2 separate regions of the Homo sapiens genome follow, and region 1 is linked to region 2. The links come from fine-mapping of genetic effects on gene expression. A gene starts in region 2. The other region holds a variant in brackets. All regions are shown on one strand. Distances are from middle to middle. Region 1 has its middle 130 kb from the start of ESR1. Region 2 holds the start of ESR1 (estrogen receptor 1).

Region 1 (4,389 bases), 130 kb after region 2:
ATTTCGAATCCGTCCAACATACCTTCACCAGATTATGTTCCCGATTAATCATCCTCACCGTGTTACTGCAAGATTAAATTAAGCACAAACCACTTACCATATCCCTGATCACCCGTCTCCAGCCAACCTCTCCAGCCTTCAACTTCAGTCAACCTCTCTTTCCCTGCTCCCACCATCCTATGCTTGGATTTCAGCCCCTTCTCTATCTAGGTCAGGTGTGATCCCACCACTTCCTCAGTGTTCATCTCAAAGCACACCTTCTCCATGGAGACCTTCCTGATGGCCCAACATCATCCTATTCTACCCTTCTCTGAATCTCTCCACATGCCACTTGTACCCTTCTCCTCTAGCAACAAGCACTACTGAAGCATCTCCTCTGTGCCAGCAAGGAAGAACAGATATGATCCTGAGGAGCTTGTGTCTAGGAAGGGAGACAAATGAATTGTATGACACGTAGCCAGGTGTGGTGGCTCACGCCTGTAATCCCAGCACTTTTTGAGGCAGGGGTGGGCTGATGAGTTGAGCTCAGGAGTTCGAAACCAGCCTGGCCACATGGTGAAATCCCATCTCTACTAAAACTACAAAAAAAAAAAAAAAAAAAATAGCCAGACGTGGTGGCACATGCTTGTAATCCCAGCTACTTAGGAGGCTGAGGTGAGAGAATTGCTTGAACCTGGGAGGTGGAGGTTTCAGTGACCTGAGATAGCACCTCTGCACTCTAGCCTGGGCGACAGAGTGAGACTCTATCTCAAAAAAAAAAAGAAAAAAAAATGTATGACAACCTGATAACTAATCAGAATTCACACATTTACAGAACACTTGATAACACTCTTAGATAAGTGGCCAATTCAATCTAGTCCTGAGTTACTTCTGTATCTCCCATGCCTCCTACCACCAATGGATTGCAGTTGATTGCAGGCTACCTGGGAATATGGCTTACTCCACCTACATCCAAGGTGGTAGTTCACACAGGGCCTGGTGAATATATGTGCTTTTTTTTTTTTTTTTGATCAAATGAATCTCCATTTAAATTGAGGGGGCAGGAAGTCCTGTTCCTCTCCAATCCACATCCCTCTATCATCCCCAATATCCAAAGAGACCTGCATTCACCTTGCTCTCCAAGCAACAGAAACAGCAGACTCTGACCATTTACAGGGCTACTGAGCAGCCTCAGTCCCCAAGTACACCCACCTGGGCTTGTAAACCTCCCTCTACAATACCAAAATCTGTACTGGAAAGGACATGTCCCCAAGTCCCAATACCGTCAAAGTATTTGAAATAGGAACAAGAAGTAAAAGATAAAACATAGAAAACAAAGAACAAAACTAGATAATGACATCGGAGACAGTACATATTTAAGCAGCCCAGTATTGACATAAGGAAGATAAGAGGATAAGACCAAAGAGCAGGCATTTGGATCACTAGGTCACCATAAGTACAAAATATGCTTCACCCGGATAGTAATATGAGTCTAATTTTCTGTCATCATTTAGAAAATGAATGCATTTAACATCATTTTCCTCACAACTAAATTTTGGCTCAGTACTGTATGTTCATATTTCTATTTCATAAAATTTTTGTAGGCTCTCCTGGTTTTCTTACCCCATTCTGCATCACAAACATCCACATGGGGGGTCCCCAGGGGATTTGGAATCCCCTGAAATCATATCCAAACATTTAGGTACATAAGAATATGTGCATTTTTCTGAAGGAAGAGTCTGAAAACTTCATCAAATTCTTAAGGAAACCTAAACAAGATTCAGAATCAAAGGAATGGGTTTACCACTGCAAATGGAATGTCTAATAACTCTTCCACGTATACTATTCTGATATTTTTCACAATTTGTAAATATTGCCTATTAGTTTTCCTTTTCAAATTAGCCCCCTTTTACCAAATTCATGAAAGTTTACAAGCTGCACCTTTCTTCTAAAATAAATTGGGATAGTCATTTCTCATTTTTGAAATTTTACTTGTAAAACTCCAAAGAGATCTTGATTTTCAAAACTTTAGGTCTACTCAGCAATTATCAAGTTGTGCTGTGAACCAGCTCCCGGCAGCTCAGAATAAGAAACACATGAAACTCCCTCCAGGGAGATCCAATTCTGTCCTTCCCTTTATACCAAAAAAAACTTCCTACAGGAGGAAACGAAAGATGGGAAAGCCAACCTGAGCACCTGGAATAGCATCAGCCTCTACCGTGCAATTCAATGGTGCCATTTATTTTTCTCATATAGGAAAGCAAAGGAAATAGAGTGAAAACAAAGGTGCACACAGATTAAACAACAGGCTATGAAAACAGTGACTTGGGCATGGGAAAATAATCAAACACTCCATGTGAAAATCAAAAAACCTGTGCTAGGAAATAAAAGGTTGAATACTAAAGCATCCGATAAACAGTTTTCCTACGGGGACTCAGACAGCTGATAGGCCTGTGAGTGTTTGTAACTCCAGATGTTTTAACTTTTCAGTTTCTCCGCGCCCTGTGTGGTGATTCTGCACTTAGGAGATTTATTTAAACTGCAGCCACCGGAGACTGCCAGCTGCAAGCGACCCCAGCACCTCGTGGTGAGCAGGTCTTCCGGAATCACTACAACTGTCGCAGGTGGGGCCTTGTTTGCTACTTGTTGAGACGTTTAAAAGACATTTTGGCAGAAAGCACCGCCTCCCCCACC[C/T]CAAGCTGGACCCCGCGTCCAGCTGTGGGCCACCACTAAACCCACAAAGCGACCGGATCCCTTGGAAGCGGCGGCCTGGAGGAAGCAGCCTGTCCCGAAGAATCTGTGCATTATTTATTCAGGCAAAGAGGATATTCATTTCAACCAGGACGGGAAATGTTCGATTATGTAACATTGGGGACGAAGAGAATGAGGCTTTTTTTTATTTTTTCTTTTTCCTGGAGAAAAGTGTTGCGAAATAGTCCAAGAACAGCTTCCAGTTTCCACAGTCCCTGTGCTTCCAGAGGCTTCTAAATGACAAGATCAAGGCGCCTGAGAAGCTAGAGAATTGACGAGCACGGGACCCTCAACAGCTCCCCCTGAGCCTCCCCCACCCCTCAGCACCGCCGTCCCCTCCTGCCATCAGGAGCGTGGAAAGCTCTTGCTGTCGCTTTCATCAGTCATCTCAGAGTCTCCTCGGTCCAATCGTCCTGAGGCATTTTCCCCACCTGTTCACACTCCAGCGCAACCCCAGAAACAATCGTTATTTCTATGGTCTACTGCACAGAGCCAGCCAGAAATATAATTAAGAATCATTCACAGGGATGTGCAAACAAGACTGGGCTTGACCAACACATCAAAATTTCAGAAGACGAGCTGGGGACCAGAGAGGTAGGTTCACAGAAGAATAAGTGAAGGTCCAAACCAAGGCCCCAACTGGTTGACTGAGCAGGAACAAGGACGTGCCCGGCAGCCATCCCAGGCAGCTGGCAGGGCTCTGAGTGGGCAGAACAGGTAAGGAGGCCAAGCAGCAGGCCAGGAGAGCCTCAAGTCCTCCCAGAGACGGGGCGTCTACCCCTGGGAGACAAGGACACCAAGCCAGGACTTCATCCCAGTGGAGCAAGGCAAACCCAGCGACTCGAACAGGATTTCAGGGGTTAAGGAGGAGACCGGTTCATTTTTTTTCATCCAATAATTATCTCCTGAGCACCTACCATGTGCCAGGCATTGTTGTAGGTGTTAGGAACATAGCTGTAAACAAAAGAGACAAAGATCCCTGACCTCCTGAAGCTTATATTCTAGTGGAACAAGGGAGGAGGCCAACTATTACGGACTGAAAGATTTGTGTCCCCCCAAAATCCATATGCTGAAATCCAAACCCCCAATATGATGGCGACAGGAAGTGGGGCCTTTGGAAGGTGATTAGGTTGTGAGGTCAGGGCCTTGTGATGGGATTAGTGCTCTCATAAAAGAAACAAAAGAGCTCTTTGATCTCTTTCTGCTACATGAGGACACAGGGAGAAGGTGGCCATCTGGCCGGGCATGGTGGCTCACGACCCCCCAGCATTTTGGGAGGTCGAGGTAGGTGGATCACTTGAGGTCAGGAGTTCAAGACCAGCCTGGCCAACATGGCAAAACCCCGTCTCTACTAAAAATATAAAAATTAGCTGGGCGTGGTGGTGTGCACCTGTAGTCCCAGCTACTCGGGAGGCTGAGGCAGGAGACTCACTTGAACCTGGAAGGTGGAGATTGCAATGAGTCGAGATGGCACCACTGCATTCCAGCCTGGGTGACAGAGCGAGACTCCAACTCAAAAAAAAAAAAAAAAAGAGAAAAGAAAAAAAGCAAGGTGGCTGTCTGCACCTGGAAGAGGCCCTCACCAGAACCAGACCATGCTGGCACCCTGATCTCAGATTTCCACCCTCCAGAACTGTGGGAAATAAATGTCTGATTTTA
Region 2 (4,389 bases):
AAAAAAAAGGTGGGCAGAAGAAATCCTTTTTCTCTGTTTTAACCCTAAATTAAAACAAGTAAAATTAATTTGAAATATGCCAACCTTTAAAAGTTTTGTTCATTGTTTGTCTTTTGAGTAAAGACAGCTTGGATCTGCGTGGCTGTGGGATGCTCTAAATTTCTCCAAGGCGGCTGAAGATGCACACTGAATACCCCCAGAATCTGCCCTTCAGTATCCTCTGGGGCCAAACTGCACTTTAGTCCCCTTCCTTCTGCTATAAATATCCCTGGAAACAGAATACTGAACAAAAACTGGTCCACGGCTTACAAGGCAGAAAGATATAGGGACACCAGTCCGGATACCAGTGTACAGTTGGGAAATGCCTAATTCAGGACCCAGCCATGTGGCGCCCTGAAGCTTCCAAACCCAGTCCGGGGTACACCTGTCCTGTGGCCACCTAGGAAGGTGTTCACCAGAAGCGCCCACCTAATCCCTCTGCAGGCCCATCAGGAAAACAAAAAACAAAAAACAAAAGGAGAAACTGGGCAAGAGAAAATGGGAGGGAGAGGAGAGGGAGAAAGAACAATTCTTGTAGGGAAAAAAATTAAAATGAGGACACACAACCTTCGCCATTGAAGTCACAAAGTGGTCTCCTGTGTCCTGGACCGGCCGCGCTCCTTCCACAGTGGCTGCGAGGCGCAGACCCTGGCTGACCCGCACGCCACTCCGGGGCATTCTCCCCGGGTGGGACAGGCTTGTCACTGGGCTGGCAGGAGATTATTTTTAAGCACTTGTGCTTCCATATGGCTTGTTTTAAACTCGCGGGACACCTACAAATTTCCGGCTGTCAGAAGTCACATGCCAGCAATCCGCTCCAGCGCGGACTCAGCCAGCTAACTCCGAAATCAGACCCATTCAACTCCCAATCGCTCTCTAAAGCCCCAGGACGTGGGGTGGGGAGGAGGGGAAAGCGGGTGACAGGAATCGCTTCCCAGAAAGTCATCATCATAGCTGACATATTTCCAATCAAATAGTCTAGATGAAAGGAAATTTGGGGAGCACATTAAACAAAAACATTAAAAGGATAAATAAAACTCTGCTGAGCTCTGCTAACTCCAAACACCCCCAACTTTAAATGCCAAGAGCGAGACCTTCCCAAGTGACTCAAAGCGCCCCGTGTTTATTTGCCTGGAGGTGTTTTCCCCCACAAATAACTGCTGCTTTGTCTGGTTTTCCAACGTGTGTTTTGTTAGGAAGCCCGGGCTTTCGGGTCTGCCTCTCGCACGGACGGTAAGTGGGTGGAGAGTACGTTTTTTTCAGCTGCCCGGCGAGAGAACTTGACTCTGAACGCAGCGCGGGCTGCACGCAGAACCCCCGGGCTGGGCCGCGCGCCCCGGGCTCCCTGCGCGCACCCTCGGGTCGCGCGTCCCGCGGCTCCCGCAGCTCCCTAGGCTCTCCCTTCTCCCTCCCTCCCTCCCTCCCTCCTGCCGGGCGCGGCGGCCACCCCGACGGGCGGCGCGGGCGCGGGTACCTGTAGAATGCCGGCGGGCCGGCCTCGCGCACCGTGTAGCCGCTGGGCTCGTTCTCCAGGTAGTAGGGCACCTGCTGGCCGTGGGGCTGCAGGAAAGGCGACAGCTGCGGCGGCGGGTGCAGTAGCATCAGCGGGCTCGGAGACACGCTGTTGAGTGGGGGGAAACCCCCCAGGCCGTTGGAGCCGAACGCCGCAGCCTCAGACCCGGGGCCGTAGGGGAGGCCGGTCTGACCGTAGACCTGCGCGTTGGCGGCGGCCGCGGCGTTGAACTCGTAGGCGGCGCCCTCGGGGTAGTTGTACACGGCGGGCTTGCTGCTGTCCAGGTACACCTCGCCCAGGGGCCGCTCCAGGGGGATCTTGAGCTGCGGACGGTTCAGGGGCTCCAGCTCGTTCCCTTGGATCTGATGCAGTAGGGCCATCCCAGATGCTTTGGTGTGGAGGGTCATGGTCATGGTCCGTGGCCGCGGGCAGGGTGCAGACCGTGTCCCCGCAGGGCAGAAGGCTCAGAAACCGGCGGGCCACCTGGAAAAAGAGCACAGCCCGAGGTTAGAGGCGACGCAGCGCATGTCCCGCCGACACGCGAGCTCTGGCCCCGGCCCTGCCCCGGGAGCCTGCGGGTCCGGTGAAGCCGGGCGACCCGACGGGAGCAAGTGCAGTCCCAGGACGAACGCCCTCCGCCAGCTCCTGGGCTCCCGGGCCTCCAACTTTAAGTACTGGTCTCCCGAGCTCATATGCATTACAAAGGTGCTGGAGGACGGCCAGGGACTGTTGCCTTGCCCTGACATTGGCTTAAACATCACTCCAGGCACAACTCGATTTGGAGCGATCCCAAAGAGCAGCTTCCCTGAACTTTACTTTACTTGTCGTCGCTGCTGGATAGAGGCTGAGTTTCACGGCCAGGGGGCGGGGGCGCACGAGGATCTGCTAAAGGTGGCCCAGGGAAGACTGGGCTTAAAATAAACGCGAAAGACGGATCCAGGGGCCGGCTTTCTCTAATGTGCTGCCTTATGTGCCCCGTGCCAGACTCCGATATATCTCTGTTTGTCTCTCTTTCTGTTTGATTCCCCCTCCTCGTTGGCTAGAAATACGTAGTGTGTACATAGGATGACCCTGGGGAGGACTACACTGTAACCGAGATAGGGCAGATAGAATGGGGTGTGCGGTTGCATACGCAGCCAGCCACAGACAGCTATATTTAGCAGCTGGGGGAACTGACAGGGGGCATCTGAGGGGAAGGGGGCGGAGATTCAGGGTATACATATAGGAAGAGCTGCATTTTGCCATCAGGAGAATGCAACCTGCCAGGACCTCAGTTTCTTCCTCTGCAAAATGCTCCCAAAGTAGATAGACCCTTCCACAACCTTCTGAGATTCTCTCAGCCTGACTTGTGTGTTTATGTTGGACCACAGTACTGTACTTGGTCCCATTAGGAATTCTCATGTGAAGGATGATTCAGAAAAACCTTTGGTTAGGGCGCACATGGGTGTTCATGCCTTCCACAGGTTGGTTATGCAACCAAAACTTCAGAAAACTGAATATAAAATGTGACCTTTTCATACCAAACATAACCTCAGGTCACGAACCAAAGCTTTGGCAATTATGTTACATTGTCGGTCTGGTCCAGCTAACAGATTTTTAAAATGCATTTCTGCATGTCTATCCTTTAGTCCTACAACTCGATCTTCTCGGTTCACTTGGGCTAGGATATGCAGAATCAAATATCCAGATGAAAAACAAATAGAAAAAAGTTTTTAACTGAATTAAAAGTTAAACATGCACACGCACATACACACACACATATATGTGTATATATATATATATATATATATATATACATATTAAGGAGACAAAAAATAGGTGAAGTATATCATGCGTCTATAATCTTGGATAGTTTATACTTTTGAATAAACTTCCTTTGCTGCAGCCTAATAGACTCTGATACAACTATCAATACTTTGTTTTAATTGCTATCCCAAACACCCAACAGAGTATCTGACGAAGTGTTCATGGTCTATCTAAATGCCAAGCTTACTGTTACTAAGAGTTACATTTTTGACTATTTTATATCAAGTATACATTTTATCTAATTCTTACAAAAATAGACCATTGTTGGACAATATGCAAATGTAGCTGAAGCCAAAATCGAGTTTAGCATTAATGACTATAGATTGTCAGCAAATAAAGGGTTAAAAACACATTAGGTGCATCGCAGATATTTCCCTTTATGGCCAGCAATCATTACTTTCCAAAGCAATTTTTTACAGATGATTTAATTTCCATAAATCACACTTTCAATTTTCAAATGCCTTTTTAAAACACATGCAAAAAGCACTTCATAGGGCTCTTAAAAAATGTGAACCTGCCAAATTATATGCAAATGGCACAAAGAATCCTACAAGTCCTGAAAGAAAAAGGAGACACACACATACCCCCATGGAGAACAGCAATCCTCATCTCCCTGCTAGGATACAGACACTAGCCAGAAAGGTAAGTTGCTTTCTCAAAATGCTAAAGCTACAGAGAGAGAAATCAAAACAAGCCTACCCTGCTGGATCAAGAACGTCTTTCCAGAAATGTTCCATGGGCTTGTAGAAGTCAAGGGCCGAGAGAGTGAGAAGGAAGGAAGGAATGTGCTCGCATGTGCGAGTGGCTCAGTGTGTGAACTAGGCAGAGAGAGTGTGTGGATGTGTTTGTGCGTGGAATGGCAGGGATTCGGGAAGCAGCCAGTAGGCAGGGCACTTGGCAGCCCCTCCCGGCAGACACGCAGCTGGGCTACTGCACAGCGCTGGATGAATGGCAGTGGGGAGTGAGGGGAGACTTGCTGTCTGCTCACAGGGAGCAGTGTGGCACAGCCAGAGAAAGCTGTACTGGGGAGG

Evidence for each region. PIP is the estimated chance that this variant, and not a neighbour inherited with it, causes the effect. A credible set is the group of variants that fine-mapping cannot tell apart.
Region 1: its variant is the best candidate, but not a certain one, in a credible set for the expression of ESR1 in whole blood (TOPMed, PIP 0.55).

The regions. Positions count from the first base shown.
Region 1 is chr6:151,680,078-151,684,466 of GRCh38, reverse strand. It overlaps a transcript of ESR1 not described here. Among named protein-coding and RNA genes, the nearest start is that of ESR1, 130 kb to the left of the region's middle. The variant C/T (reference allele first, on the strand shown) is at 2,674.
Region 2 is chr6:151,805,489-151,809,877 of GRCh38, reverse strand. It overlaps ESR1 (estrogen receptor 1), which reads right to left and starts at 2,196. Exons shown (of 8, transcript NM_000125.4): 1 at 1,514-2,196. The coding sequence starts at 1,965.